2 separate regions of the Homo sapiens genome follow, and region 2 is linked to region 1. The links come from fine-mapping of genetic effects on gene expression. A gene starts in region 1. The other region holds a variant in brackets. All regions are shown on one strand. Distances are between the middles of the regions. Region 1 holds the start of VRK2 (VRK serine/threonine kinase 2). Region 2 overlaps VRK2 (VRK serine/threonine kinase 2).

The links. PIP is the estimated chance that this variant, and not a neighbour inherited with it, causes the effect.
Region 2: its variant is fine-mapped to the expression of VRK2 in whole blood (TOPMed, PIP above 0.99).

The regions. Positions count from the first base shown.
Region 1 is chr2:58,041,691-58,050,038 of GRCh38, reverse strand. It overlaps VRK2 (VRK serine/threonine kinase 2), which reads right to left and starts at 3,233. Exons shown (of 13, transcript NM_006296.7): 1 at 3,171-3,233; 2 at 1,072-1,212. The coding sequence starts at 1,207. It overlaps LOC107984043 (formin-2-like), which reads left to right and starts at 2,806. Exons shown (of 3, transcript NR_171623.1): 1 at 2,806-3,515. RefSeq lists a silencer at 2,981-3,250 and enhancers at 2,854-3,409, 3,401-3,520, 3,410-3,965.
Region 2 is chr2:58,154,557-58,162,904 of GRCh38, reverse strand. It overlaps VRK2 (VRK serine/threonine kinase 2), which reads right to left. Exons shown (of 13, transcript NM_006296.7): 13 at 3,034-3,556. The coding sequence ends at 3,212. FANCL (FA complementation group L) reads left to right here. Exons shown (of 14, transcript NM_018062.4): 11 at 1-39; 12 at 1,267-1,383; 13 at 2,726-2,797; 14 at 3,105-3,658. The coding sequence ends at 3,140. Among named protein-coding and RNA genes, the nearest start is that of FANCL, 83 kb to the left of the region's middle. The variant G/A (reference allele first, on the strand shown) is at 3,040.

The sequences.
Region 1 (8,348 bases):
CAAGCAATTTCAAGCAAGTTCAAACCCTTTAAATGGGTCCTTTACTTGACTCATACAATTTTTTGTGCTGATCTTGTCTTTCCAACTAGAATAGACACTTAAGTATTTAATAAGCAGATATTTATTGACCAAACTTCATTCATTCATTCATTCAAAACTACAATCTTAATTTTATCAGAAGAGGATCTTTTATATTTCAGGATCCATGAAGCATGTTTTTCTGGAAATATGTGATGAGAACCCAAGATTCCCTCAACGGAGGTATTTTATCAACTCCTTAATCTCCTATAGAAATAGATGTGATCTCAAGTCTCAAGTGAGTACATTTAGGAGAATTTATCCTTGAGGGTATATTTTTAAAAATCACTACTATTTTCCTTATTTTATTAATCAATCTTTTAATGGATATCCCCTCCTCATTCCAACTCAATGATCCATTAAAGTTCAGTGTAATTTTTAAATGCTTAAATGCAATGTAAAGGCCTATCCAGCCCATGGTTCCTTACCTGTACCACAGATCACAGAAAATAATTTTGAGTGTTTATTTTTTCAATTATCCCAAGAATGGCACATCCCTAGGGACCACTCTAGATGCACGAGAGAGAAGTTAATTCATTTCACAGAATAGATGCCTTAAGTTTTATCTATGAATTCTCCAGTAGAGCCCAATTAAGAAATGACTAGACTCTTGTATTGCCTAAATATTGATTAAGATTCACAAACAGAAAGTGTTTTTATCTATACAGTTGTGGTTTCTCATCTGAAAAAAGCATGTTTCTAAGAAAACAAGCTCTCAAAAAAAAAGAAAGTTAGCATTTTGTCTGGCAGATTGTATAATTATGCTCTAAAAAGACTTCTAAGATTTACTCAGAAAAACATGGACAACAAGGAGTGGGTCAGTGATGTCTTGAACCTAGACACTGTACTCTATTATTACTTAATCGAGTACAATCATGAATTTTAATAAAGTACACATATGAATTCCATATTTCCATTCTTAAAATACCACTAAGTAATCACGGTTACAGTCACAGATATAAGAATAATTGTTAATTTAAGGTTTTACTTTACCTAAATATATCAATCCAAATCCTCCAGAGCCAATCTTCTTGCCCAGTACCCACTGATTGCCTTCCATATCATCCAGAACCTTGCCTTCTGGAAATGGAATAGGAAGTTTGTATTTTTCATTTCTTTTTGGTGGCATCACTTCTGTTGGCAGAAGGGGTGAGATAAATGGGTAAAAAGAAAAACAAACAAACAAAACTCTTAAAATACACTTCCCAAAATGTCTTCAATAGGGAACTTTCCCAGGTTCCCAGAAATTAGGATTCTAAAGTTAATTCAGTTTGGAAAAGCCCACACATTATATTCAAATTAGAAATTCACATACATTACAATACTGAGATCTAAGAGGTATAGATATTTTAAAAAAACAGAAGCAAACTAACCAAATTTCATCCAAAATTCATTTCGGGGTTCTATAGCACATATTAACAGTGCAGGACACACCTTAAGAAACACGAAATTAACAATTTCCAATGAAGAAAGAAAATAAATTTCATGTACATGGAAATATTGCTGTCACTGAGAATGTAAAATGTTAAAAGTGAGAAGGTCTTCAGTCACTAGAAAAGAACACAGGATTGGATTGGGAAGACACAGACAATGGCAATGGACATCTCACCACCGTGATACTAGGTACTCAGTAAACATTTGTTAAATGAGCCAGGGATTTTCACGGATATGTAACTTAGCAGAATACTAGGCCATCAGTTCTCGGGCTGCCAAAATATTCTCAGCATTTTGTCTTCTTACCCTCTTTCTCAGTTTATCACAGTGAAAACAGTCCTGCCTTAGAGATTACAACTGTGCCACCAACAACAAAAGCATAATCTCCACAGCACAGCCATGCAACTTTAATCAACTAATTATAATTGTACATAGGTTAGCAAATTTCTCAATGGGAAATTCTGAGTTAAAAGAGAAAATTTCTTAGGGGAAAATACATATGCCAGCATACATGCCTGAAAATAATTTAAATGTGAAGGTAACCATGATCCTCTAAGTATTTAAAACTATTAAGAGTTTCTGACATGAAAGTTAATTAAAAACGTATATACGTAAATGTAAAGTTTTCTTAATATAATCTTCCTAGCTTCCATAAAAGAAAGTATCTGTTTTTCCTTTAACGGGTTTTTCCTCCTTCACTTAACTGCTTTTTTACTTAGCAGTATTGTCCCAGGTAGAGTCGCTGCGTGTATCTTTAACAATATTCACCTTCCTCCTGATAGGCACACAAGGGCTGGGAATTTGGATGGTGAACTATGCCTAGAGCATTGATTGTATCATAAAGCAGGAAAAGTTTTTGTGGAGGTTTCCCTTGACCAGTACATTATATAGGCTGGTGCCTATTACAGATTTACTGATTTAAAACTTAAAGTCTCCAAAGTGTAAACTACTGATTAAGGAATAAATTCTAAATAATTATAAAAAAGATAAATACACTTTGGGGCAAGGCAGCGGCCTCAGGGCTTGAGGCGGTAAGGGAGACTCTACGAAATGTACATCCTGGGGGCGAGTCCCGAGTTCATCTGCCAAGGGAAACGACAGCCTCTCAGGGCCCGTCCCTGTCAGGGGTGTCCCTTCGGCTTCTGGGTACCTTCCCAGGGCTAAGATGAGTCCTCAACACGAGTTTCCGAGCAAACTGGTACCCAGGGGTTAACATGTGCCTGGGCTGACCTCCAACCCCGCCGCGGCCCCTGACCCTGCGGAAGGTAACGAGAAGCAGCGCGGCCCAGCCGCCTGGTCCGTCCGCCCTTAGCACGCCGGGGACCTACGGCCAACCCCGCGCCCCAACTTCCCGCCACAAGTTCTCTCTGCACCGGCAAAAAGAGAAACTCCACCCACTTTTCCGCTAACACGTCGGACCCGCTTTTGGCAAACGTGAGTAGAAGGGGACGCCTTGTTCTCACTCCCAGCGGGGAAAAAAGAACCAAACGCGGAAGCAGCGACTCTGCCCGGGCCGGAGCTGAGGCCCGGGGGCTGGGACGGCCCGGAGTCCCCGGCATCTAACTCCGACGGCAGCCCTTTTCCGAGCGGGGCCGCGGCTCCGGCACTGCAAGCGGAGGTGCCGCCCGCCACCCAAGACCCCAGAGCAAGAGACTGACCGGGCCTCAGGATCCCCCGTCGCCGGGCCGCGCGCACCGCCTCCTACCTGCCGCTGCGACGAGGCGGAGCCCCCGGGCCTACAGTCCCGCGGGGAGGCGGGCCCAGCACTCGAGCCTGCCCTCCCTAGGACCTGCCTAACTTCTCTCCAGCTGCGTCGGCCTCGCAGTGCAGCGGCCCGCGGAGCCTCACACAGGCCGCAGCCGGTTCCTTTCAGCGGCCTGTCCACGCCCCGGAGACGCCCAGGGGAAGGAGAGGGCGCGGCTACATGGGGAATGGGAGCTGTGTTACTACCTCCACCCTGGCCCGCCAGCGTCTGGACGAAGAACCGCCGCCAGACCAGTTTGGTACGAAATAAGCACGACATGCATTTGTGTAGGAGTGTTAGATCTCCTGTACCACAACCTGAGTACTACGAGCTTCCAAATGGCTAGTCCTTACCGAGCTCTCGCCGAGCAACTAACTATTGGTACTAGCGAAGACTCCAGTTAGGAGGGCCTGTATGTAACTCACCGCGTTTAAGTTCTCAAAGGCATATTGGTTCAGGACCTATTTCTGCCATTAATCGTAGGATAATTTAACACCGTAATTAACAAACTTCAGGTTTTTTTGTCTGTGAAATGGAAATAACCCTTGTTGTTAGATTATAAGGTTATTGGTTATAAGATTATGACAATAAGGTGAGGACTTTATTAAGCAGTTTTCTAATACATAAAGACTCATAGTGGCCAGGTGCGGTGGCTCACGCCTGTACTCCCAGCACGTTGGGAGGCCGAGGCGGGTGGATCATCTGAGGTCAGGAGTTTGAGACCAGCCTGGCCAACATGGTGAAACCCTATCTCTACTAAAAATACAAAAAATTAGCCAGGCGTGGTGGCGGACGCCTGTAATCCCAGCTACTCGGCAGGCTGAGGTAGGAGAAGCGCTTGAACCCAGGAAGCAGAGATTGCAGTGAGCAGAGAGCGCGCCACTGCACCCCAGCCTGGGCAGCAAGAGGGAAACTCAGTCTCGAAGGAAAGAAAAAAAAGACTCATAGTAAGCTTATATTTTAGACTAAACCAAACAAATGCTTAGACAAAGATTATTAATACGTCAGCATTCTACATAGTAACCACCAATAATTGGTTGGGATACAAATACTGAAAGGAAAATTAGAGCCCTTTAATGACTTTGATAGAATAAGGAATTGGGGCTCCCTACATCTTTCAGACTGTCACCAAAATGAAAGATGGCATGAGAAGACGTTTCTAAAAACAAACAAAAAAGTATTTTTAAAGAAACAGTCCATAGAATAATTGTGCCCTTAGTCATTCACTGGTCCAACAGTGTCCTTTCTTATTTTCTTAAGATATTTATATAACAGATGCATAATTACAGATATTTATGTAACAGATGCATAATAATCCTAATATCCATATTGGGTACTCTTTCCTCCTTTCCAAATTTGTTTAGCTTTCCACCACTTCCCCGGCTCCCTTTTGAGAAGAAACAACTCCAGTAGCAACCACAGCAGATTACTTGTAGGTGGTTCCTCTCCCTACAGGCATGTATCCAGTGTTAGTAAATCCTGTTGGCTCAACCTTCAAAATACATCCAGCATCTATCACTTAGCACCCTTACCTGCATTCTGGCCCAAACCATATTTTTTCTCTAGGTAATTGTATTACCCTCCTAAATGTTTTATACCCTCTTATCCCTTTAGTCTGTTCACAGCAAGCAGCCACATGATCCTTAACGCTTAAATAATTACTGAGCTTAAAACAATTCAGTGTTATTCCAATTTACTCACAATTAGCCAGTCTTCGCTATGACTTTAAACAGCATTTCTCAACCTGGGCACTATTGACAGTCAGCCTGGATAATTCTTTGTTGGGGGTTTGGGAGAAGGAGGAGGATTGAGAGATAGGCTGTCCTGTGCATTGTAGGATATTTAGCAGTATCCCTGGTCTCCTCAGCACTCCCTCCCACACAAGTTAACAACCAAAATATCCCCCAACATGACGAAATTTTGCCAAAATTGCCAGTCGTTGAAAAGAACACTGATCTACCTATTATGCACTCCCACTCCCCAATGTCCTATTACTCTCTTCAACCACAGTGGCCTGCTGTTCTCAAGAACTTTTCGCATTTACTGCCACCTGGACCACTCTCCAACCTGGTATCCGTATAGACTGCTCCATCACTTCCTTCAGGTCTTTATTTAAAAGTCAGTTCAGTGAGACCTTTCCTAAACATCCTATCTGAAATTTCAGCTCACCCACAATATTTCGTAGCCTCTTTCCCTGTATTTTTCCCAGTACCTACTGCTATACAGCAATATATTATACAGTTTATTATTTATTTTGACAAAAGACAATCTTTTTCAGTAAATTGTATGTTTCATGAGGTCAGGCAACATTTTTGCCTGTTTTCGTCACTACTGTATCCCCAACCCCTAGAAAGGATATGGGCAACCATTTCCTTCTTCAATGAATAAATGAACCATGCTGGCCCCATTCCAATTCCCATGATTGGTTTAGACAGTACAAAATAAGCATGTGCTGAGTCTAGGTAACGAGGTGAAAAGAAGTTTGCTGGACACATTCTTGGAAGAGATAGTCTCTGATGTGATGGTTAAAATGGCTGCAGTCATCGTGTGACCACAAAGATGGGAAAAAGTACTAATCTAAAGCCCCAGGAATGGCAGAATATTCAACAAATGTTAGAACAGCTAGACATCCATATATACAAAAAAAAGAAGAAAGAAAGAAACCTCAACCCTTAATTCACACCCCATGTAAAAATTTACTTGAAACTGATCATACAGCTAAATCTAAATACAAGATCTAAATCTCAAACTTTTTAGAGAAAACCTAGCAGAAACTCTATATAATCTTTAAATGTGTGCACTTATAAAGTATAAAAAATTTAAAAGCTGGAAACCTAAAAGAAGAAATTGACAATTTAACTTCATCAAAATGAAAAACTTTTGCTTTTCAAAAAATACTAATAAGTTACCAAGGATTTGGAACAACTTGGAACTCTCTTATATTGCTGTTGATGGTACAGCCACTCTGGAAAACAGTTTGGCAGGTTCTTATAGTGTCAAACATATAATTAACATACAACCCAGCATTCGCATATTTACCCAAGATAAATCTAAACCTGTATCCACACAAAGACTTGTAGGGGAATCTTTAGAGCAGCTTCATATGTGATAGCCAAAACTGGAAATAAATTTCCATCAACTGGTGAATGAATAAGCAAATTATACTATATCTACTATACAATGAACTATCACTCAGCAATAAAAAGGAGCAAAGCACCAATACAGTCAACAAGCTGGATGAATATCAAAAACACAATGCTATGTAAAAGAAGACACAAAGGAGTATATATAATATAATAATTTATTCGAAATCGAAGAGCTGGGATTGACTGCAAGGAGCTGAAACGTTGCAAATGTTAAATTTCTTTACTGTGGTAATAGATACATTATTATACATTTGTCAAAATTCCTCTAGTTATACACTTAAAATTGAATTATATATAAATTATGCCTTAATAAAATCGATTTAAAAGAATGGCAAAAGAGAAAGATAGGAAGATCCTGAGTCTTTGAGGCCATTATTGAACTACTAATTCAACTAATCCTGAACCACCATATTTTCATATTCATCCATGAAGTGTTAAGTGTTCTTATGATTTAAACCACTTAGCATTGGTTTTTATATTTCTTGCAGCCAAAATCTTCCTAACAGTAAAATAAAGTTTCAAGTTTCATAAGTGCCAATGATTTTTAAATGTTAATAAATTTGTACTAAATAAAAATGGCAACAGGAGCAGGTAAACCTATATTGAGAATATGTGTTTTTTTTAAGTGTTGGGATTTAATGCAGAATTTTATGATTCAGAGCATATTGCTGTGTGTATGTTTCAAGATGAAAACTGACAGAATATAGAAATACAAATTTTGGAACTAGTGAAAGAACATCTTCTGAATGAACATGATGAGAAACAAGAAAGAAAAGAGAATCTAGACATGAAAGCAGTGAAGTGTGAGTCATCAGAAAAAAAATATGGGGAAAACTAGGTTTTCAAACAAAGCTATTTTGATAGATCTTACAGGCTATGAATGATTCACCACAAATACACGCACACAAAAGGACTTTCTTGGCTGTATGCCAACTTGTAGGTATGGCATGCGTTCTGCTTTTCAAAGAACTGGGTGCTATAAAATGCTTACACTGGTTAAAAAGAAAAAGAAAAACCCAACCATTTAGTAAGCATACTTTACAAGGCCAAGATCATTTCAAATCAATTAAAATGTTAAAGATGATGCATAGACAAAACATTCAGAAAAAGCCAATTTTTGTTATTTAAAGTGAGATAAGGAGATCATATCAGTGAACGTGTTTTGCCTGCCAAAGAAGAGCTAGTATTTTTGTTCTGTAAAAATCAGGAGGCCATTTGCACTCATAAACTTACAATCTCTAAACAGCTAAGCAGTTCCTGACATAGAAATTTTGAAATTAATAATTTTGAAAATAATAGAATTCAGGTAAATGGAATTCCAAGCCCATTAGATAAACAATCAGACCAAGTATCTATGTCCTCTGCATTCTTTACATATAAGATCATTACAAAGTATAAACTTAATCATCCAAATGACATAATTCTTCATTGTCTATATAAATGAAGAATTAGAATATTAAAAATAATTTAAAATGTCATATCAATATGTCATGTAAACCAAAAAGTATCTGAGATAAGTCTCAATCAATTTAGAAGTTTCTTTTGCCAAGGTTAAGGACATGCCCGGGATACAGCCTCAGGAGGTCCTGAGAACATGTGCCCAGGATGGTTGGGCTACAGTTTGGTTTCGTATGTTTTAGGGAGACAGAAGACGTCAATCGATACTTGTAAAATGTACATTGGTTCAGTCTGGAAAGGCCCGACAGCTTGAAAGGGGGGTAGGAGGGGGGAGTTCCAGGTCATAGGTGGATTCAAAGATTTTCTGAGTTTATCTAAAGACCTGGAATCAGCAGAAAGGAATATCTGGGTTAAGATAAGGGGTTGTGGAGACCAAGGGTATTAGTTTACTGATGGAGCCTCCAGGTAGCAGGCTTCAGAGAGAATAGACTTTAAATGTTTCTTATCAGACTTAAAAAGATGCCAGATTCTTAGTTAATTCTCTTCTG
Region 2 (8,348 bases), 110 kb before region 1:
GAAATTGATTTTCCAGCTCGTGCTATCCTGGAAAAATCTGTAAGTTTTATCAGTGTTTTGATATTCCAGACAGTATTGCATAATGAAGTTTAAATGCTTCTCTCAGTGAAAAATGAGGCTGAAAAAGGAGGGAATTAGAAAAATATTATAACACAGACTTCTGATCTGCATCAAAAAACTTGTTTACCTTTGATTGGTTGTTAAGTACAACTGTCTCTTGGAACAGGGGGATTGATTTCAGGGCTGCCCATGGATACAAAAATCCACAGACATTAAAGTTCCACAGTTACCCTGCAGGACCCATATATAGAAGAAGTCGGCCCTCTGTATACAGAGATTTCACATAAACACAGGTTCTGCATCTTGTCAGTACTGTATTTTTGATCTGCATTTGGTTAAAAAAAAAATCTGTGTATAAGTAGACCTGTGCAGTTCAAACCCATGTTGTTCAAGGGTCAACTATATACTTTTTTCATGGTCTTCAGTAGTGACGTCATTAATGACAGACATTTATTAAAAATAAGGGGAGAACTCCAAAGTAGCTAATGAGATGTTTGGCTTTTCTACATAGTCTGTTTATGGATGGCTCAAATACTGATTAGCTTGATGTAAGTGTTTGTGAAGCAGTTATAGTTTCTCAAAATTGAATAGATACCACTATACTGCAAAAATAATAGAATTGATTTTTGACAAGGCTGCTAAGGTTGTAGACTACTAAATGGTAGTGAGTTTCTTTTTCCTTTAGTTACAGAATTGTGCTGTTTAGTAATCACTAGCTAATATCAATTCCTTTCTTTAAATACTATCAGGGACATTATAACAATGTATGATATGGGAATATTACTGATGCCCAAACATCTTGCCAGCCAAAAATGGAATCTCTTTTTTTAGCCTAGCTGTGTATATTTGAGTGGAAAAGGAAACACCCTACAATAGCTTTGCTAGGTGTTAAATAGTAATGTAATTATATTTCCTATAATACAGCAATATAGTCACCTTTATAAAAACTATATTTATAAAACATTCTTCCTGATCTTACCTTGTGTTTTAAACACATAGATGATTTCGTATTCTAAAGTAGTTAGAAGAATTGTAATGTTCCCAACATAAAAGGTAAATGTTGAGGTGATGAATATCTTAATTATCCTGATGTCATCATTAAACACTGTATACATGTATCAAAATATCACACATACCCTCCCAAATATGTACAACGAATAAGTTAGTGAGACACATACGCTTTTTATAAATATTTTTCTTTTGAAGGATTTTACTATGGATTGTGGAATTTGTTATGCTTATCAACTTGACGGTACCATTCCTGATCAAGTGTGTGATAATTCTCAGTGTGGACAACCTTTCCATCAAATATGCTTATATGAGGTAAAAAATAAAAATATTGTCAAGACTTTTTTCCGCTAACACAACATAGGAAGTATTCCTGTTTGAAATACACAGAATCTAAAATCTGTTGAGTCAATAGTGATCCTCTCTTTTGCCATTAACTCCTTTTACCAGTTTATTCCAGATGCTTATGTGCTTCATTTCTTCATCACAGTTACTAATGAGTGGAGAAATGTTCTGAAGTATCCAAGGGAGAAAATCTATCCAGAATATATTCATGGACTAGCTTATTGACACATAACAAATTAAATTGATGGTACATTGGAATCTTTCTATAAATTCCTTGTTACCACAATGTAAGCTTCATAGGTTTACCCGAGGTGGAGGTGGTTGAAAGTGGCAGTAATACAGTGAAAATGAAATTAGTACTATGTAGTATCTATTACTTTTCAGGCTGCATTTAAGAATAGAATATATCCAATACTACTACTTTTCATGTTGAGAAGAATGCCTTTTGTGATCTGAGTCTCACAGCACTCAGGCAATGCCACTTTACTTACTGTATGTGAAGTCTACTTTCATTCCTGTCTTTAGTGCCTGGCTTCACCTTAGGGCCTAGTTGATACATGATAAACTGTGTGTAACTATATACAGAACACCTTGCAATTGTATGTTGCCTTCGGTTTCAGTCTTCCTTAATATCACATCTTTACTTTTGTGATTAGAGGTAGCAGTTGGTGCCGTCTGTACTTTGCCAATGGAGAACTTAGGCAGAGGCATCTATTTACCTTATATAAAATCATGAAATTACAGAAATACAGGTCAAATTACAGAAATACTCTAAGGGAACATGTGATTTCTTTTGTAATTATGAATATTCATTTAATTTTTAAAAATTCACTGGCTCATGCTTATAATCAATGGGTTGAAAATTAACCCACTGTTAGTGATTCAGACCAGAACTAAGAGGGAAATTTTCAAGAGCCTGTAGTATCTTTAACAGCAGGAGTTGTTAATTTGTGATTAATGGATTTAGGGAAAGTCTATGAATGCCAGGAACTTAGTATGCATTATTTTTATGTATGTCTATTCTGGGGATAAAGAAAATGCGTAATTCTTATCAGATTCTTAAAGGGGCCCATAATCTGGTTATAAACCAGTGGTTTAGGCCTTCAATTCCATGTTGATTTCCCTTGTTACTCAACATCTTAATAGTCTGCTATTGGCTCAGGAAATACATCCCTTACTCTTGCAAAACAAAATTAAGCTAAGTCTTCTGGAATAAAAACATAATGCACTTAAAAACAAAGGGAATGACATTTGGAGTATCTGTAATTTGTAATCATGCTGACGCTTCTCCTTTATCTTTTAAAATTTGCAGTGGCTGAGAGGACTACTAACTAGTAGACAGAGTTTTAACATCATATTTGGTGAATGTCCATATTGTAGTAAGGTAAGCAAATTGTTAATCACATCTCATAAAATGTGCCTAGCTTTCAGTAATATGTTCTAGAAGATAGATCTATATAGTATATCAGTTTATCTAAAACTTTTGAAACTCATTCTCTGTATTTCTATTTTTCAAATTCTCTGATCAAAAACATTAAACTCCTTTTCTAGATTTCCTAGGTGATCTGAAACTTCAGAAGTGTTTTCCAAACTGTACTATGACACTATTCTATGACACTATTTCTA[G/A]TACAAAGCAATTTTATTTTTTAGAGTGTCCACAAACTTTGTTAAAATATGTTCTCTTTTTAAAGCCAATTACCTTAAAAATGTCTGGAAGGAAACACTGAAATAAGAATACAACATTTCGGTGAAGAGCTGGAAACTTAAAAAATTATCAAAAGGAATTTTGGTATCATCTTCAGAGAAAAAATAAAGCAAGAAATACTAACATCAAAAGGACAGGTATGATGATGCGATAATAATAAACATCTGCGTTTGTCTCTTCACTAAGAGTAAACTGGGAAATTGTAGGCCAAAGTCCAGTTGAACTTTCTAAGTCTGTGATCCCCGTGCTGACTGTGGAAGTGTATTTATACCAAGATGGAGATCTTGACTTCTTGAATATATCTGGACTGGTAAAATCTTGATGAGGCTCATAAAATGAGTTTGGGAATTGTGTATAGCTGATTTTTTGTGGGAAACTGTTTACTTCATTCAAAGGTTCTTGAGACTCTTGATATTTCTGTCTTCTCCTTGTGCTTTCCTATGGAAAAAATACATATATAGTTTAGTTTGTTAGACGTGAGTTATCCAAGTATTTATTTTGTGTAGTGTGTAAGAATGCTAAATAAAATGTTATACAAGATCAAGTTTTTGCGTGTTATTTTTCCTGAGAAGTAATTTTTAGGTAAAGATCTTAAAGATTTACACTTTTTAAGAGTTTATAAACATCCAACAAGCAAATCTGGATATAATTTGAGTGGTTCTTTTAAACCACGTCAGTAGGCCATCTCTTAAGTAATTTATAATCTAAAAATAAATAGGATAGAATATGAAAACTGAATTTTCTTGGCAAAACCAAAAAATTGGGCTTAATCTTAAGGGGGTAAGATAGCCATAATTAGAAATATTTTGGTCATTAATGTGATTCTTTCTTTACCTTCTGATTCCATGGCAACTGAGAAGTGTCCACTGTACAGTGGGCAAAGGATGAGGCTGTACACAGCCAAAGAAAACTGCCTCAGGGGTAGCTATAGTGTTATGTCTCTTGGAAAGCTATACAGACGAACCAGTATAGACCGAATAGATATTAATATAAAGCAAATTAAGTGGTATTAATATAAAACAAATTAACTGGTTACTTATGCAAGTTTCGGGAGCTACTTCTATGTTTTCATCATTCCTGTTGGCCAAAGTCCCAGGAATCAGTTTCCTGATCACCACTTAACTGGCTGAAAGTCGAGTTTTTCTGCTTTGCTTTGGTGACATCTGGCATGCCCCCTCAGCACCATTTATCAAGTAACTAACTTAGAAGAGAAGAAATTTATAAAACAAAGCAAAATACTTTAAGCTTGTTCACTGTCCATCATTCTCAGAATAGCTACTACCTTCTCAACCTTTAAACTGCCACCCTTCAAACAAACAGCCCTCCCCTTTCTAGATACAGAGTTTTGGAAGTGTCAGAAAGGAGTCCTACATAAAACAAAGGATGTTTTAAAAACTACTAGCTTTCCTATGAAAAAAAATTACTTGAGAGTTAAATGACTCACTTTAGAGTTAAATAACTCATTTTAAACTACTCTTTCTGAGCTAACGAAGTCACATTAATGCAGTTTTTCATAAGTTTGTCAGCTTTATTAACTAAAGTCAAAATAAGTGAATAATTATTCCAGTAGGCCTATAAAGCATAATACAAATAATAATTATGCTATCAAATCATAGAGCAGCATTTACATATAGCTCACATGTGCAAGGCTGGGAGATATCTCCACTTAGGTAAGGATAGAAGTCAAGCTACTATAATTTCCAGAATCATCTACTGTGTAATCTATACACTTAATCTCTCTTGAACATCAGCAAATGACATCATATGGCAAGGCACTCATCAAAGAATTTAACCACCTGTTGTCTTCAGTACACTGAGGGGGTCTGATTAGGATAGTCTATAACAGGAGTTGCCAAAATTTGGCTTGGCTAGTTGCCTGTTTTGTGAATAAAGTTTTATTGGAACAGAGCCACATCAATTTGTTTATGTATTGTCTATGTGGGCTTTTGCACTACAATGGCATTGTTGAATAGTTCTGACAAAAACTGTATGGAAAGTAAACTGAAAATATTTTCTTTCTGGCCTTTTAAGAAAAGGTTTGCTGACCCCTGCTCTACGGCATTATTCTTCGAGTATTAGAAAGCAAACAGATCATCATAACTTGTTAAAATGCAGATCTCATTCAAAAGGTCTAGGAGTATGACCTGAGATTCTGTATTTCTGAGAAGCTCCAGATGATGCCAATACAGCTGGTCTGCACACCCCACTTTGAGTAGCAAAGGGCTCAAGGCAATGCAATAATCTACTGTGATAGAGCATTGGTTCTCAGCCTGGGTTGATCCTGCCCCACAGAGGACATTTAGCAATTTCTGGAGACATTTTGGGTTGTTACAGCTAGGAGGAGATACTATTGACACCTAGTAGATAAGTACTAGGAATGATGCGAAACATCCTACATCACAGGACAGCACCCCCACAACAAATAACAGCTCAGCTCCCAAATGTCAACAGTGCAGCTGTCAAGAAACCCTACATTAGAATAGTTATTAACTTTGAATGCACATCAGAATCGACTGGGAAGCTATGAAAAATAGCAACACTACTTCCACTCTGGCCATGAAAATCTGATACCAGACTTCCCCTTCTGCTGTGAAAACCCATAAATAAATAATAGAAAACAAAATTAGTCAAAATATGTGAAATAACTTAGGGATCTAAAACAAAGCTCAGGAAGGGAAAATAACACAGACCTAAGAAAGGCCACAATTTAAGATTTACTGCAGACTAGGCCAAAAAAGCCTGAACAGAACTTATAAAATGATCAGGTTTAGTCACCAGTAAGTTAACTGTCTGCCAGAACTAACCTCAAAACTCTTTAAAGGAATGCAATAAAATCTGGAGTCTAAAGACCACAGCATCCACAATGTTCAGTATACAATAAAACTACTACAAATGAGATGCAGGAAATGTGACCCATAACCAGGAGAAAAAATTAACAGAGATTCAGGGCTGATCCAGATGGTACAATTATCAAACAAGGACTATAAAACATCTACATAAATATGTTCAAGGAATTAAAGTTGAACATAATTAATGAACAGATATGGGGGAGGTGGAATCTCAACATACAAAGAAATATACTTGTGGAACTGAAAAATACAGGGTATAACATGAAAAATTCATTGGCTAGGTTTAACAGCTGATTTGACAATCAACTAGAGGTCAGGCAAAAACAAAACAAAACAAAACAAAACAAAACAAAAAAAACACCACCACCCAACCTGAGGTACAGCAACATAAAAGACTGATTTAAAAAAATAGTTATTTAGCTGCCTATGAAAAAGGTAAAGTATTCTAACATGCATGTATTTGGAACTCAGAGAAATAAGAGAGATTAAGGCATGAAACAAATTGATGAAATCATACAAAACCTTTCCAATTTGAAGACAAATATCAACCCACAGATAAAAGCAGCTCTACGAACCCAAAGCACAATAAACAAAAGACAGCCATCCTTACAAAACCAAAAATAACAAGCAAATCTTGAAAGCCACAGAAAGAAATACATTATAAATGGGCCAATAAGAATAACTGCTAACTTCTTAGCAGAAAAAAAAACAGACCTATGAAGATGGAAACATCCTTTTTAAAGTTCTGAAAGAATAGATTCCATATTCAATGAAGCTTTCAAAATCAAAGTGAGGGGCATCCAGTTATAGACAAGAAAGAGTAAGCATCCCACCTTATTCTGGTAATTAAAGAGTGGACAAAAAGCACCTATCAAAACACTGAAAATTCTAAAAATGACCCTCCCTTGAGTCTCCACCCGCCATGTACTTTAGTACCTCCTATTACCCCAGCCTGGGCCATAAAAGAGCCTGCGTTCTGGAAACAGCAATATGCACAGACTGGAAAAAAAAAAAAACAAACATGAAAAACATGCTCTATGTAACCAATAGCCCTGGGGGAGGACAGGTCTACAGGACAGAATCTTTTTATACCTGCTGAACCCTAGGTGAACACCATGAAAGAAGCTGTACCTTACTTCTCTCCAGGTGCTGTGGAAACGGGGCGGCGGGGTGGGGGGGATGGTGGGGGCGGTGGGGAGGTGGCAAGGGTGGGGTGAAGAGGGAGGGTACAGTCCTGTTGAGTATCATCACCCTACACTAACCAGGGAGCACACCTACCCTTCCCCCATCAAGCACTGTGGAGACAGGTAGAGCCCTGTTGACCGTCCTCACACTAACAAGGTGATACCCTATCCCACTGGGTGTTAGGGAAATTGTGAGATAGAGCTCTGACAACCTTTCCCAGCCTGTACTACTGAGGTGGTCCCCCTTCCTTCCCACCAGGAGACTACCAAAACTGTAAGGCAGAGCCATATAGCCTGTTCCTCCCTGCACTAACACAAGCAGATGTGGTACCTGTCTTCCTCCCCACCAGACACTGTAGAGACCGTAGTAGAGAGCTACCAACCTTCTCCACCTTGCACTGAGCAAACATCAGAGCAACAGCAACCCTCCACTCTGGCCTCAGAAACTGGAGAGGCACTTGCCCTTTTGACCGTGCCTGCTGTGCATTAAACAGCAAAGAGTTGGCATCGCACATCTCCCTAACTAGAAAGCTCTGTTCTCAGTAATTGATATAACTACTAGAGTGAAAATCAGCAGGAATATAAAATAAATCAGTAACATCACAAGATAATGGGATCTAGCTGATATTTATAGACTACTTCACCCCCAAACAGGAAAATACATGTTCTTTTCAACTGCAACTGGAACATTCAACCAGGCAGACCGTCATATCCTATCCATAAAACAAACCCTAACAAATTTATATTGTTAGACCATAATATAATTAAACTAGAAATCAATAACTGAAAAAAAAATCTTCAGATACTTGGGAATTAACACATTTCTAAATAAGGTATTAAAAGTCTCAAGGGGAAATATATTTTGAAGTGAACAAAATTGAAATGTATAAATATTTACAGGATGCAGTACAAACAGGGTTTAGCAGGACACTTATAGCATGGAATACTTACATTAGAAAAAATAGTGGGTTCAAATCAATAGCCTAAGCTTCTACCTAAACTGGAAAAAAGGGAAGAAAATACACCAAGATCAAGATGAAGGAAAGAAATAATAGGAAAATCTCCAAATGCTTTAAAATTTAAAGACCCCTTTAAATGGGTCAAAGAGACCCCAGGAAAATTAAAAAATACATTGAACCGAATGGAAATAAAAATACAACATATCAAAACATGGGACATAGCTAATGTCATGCTAGA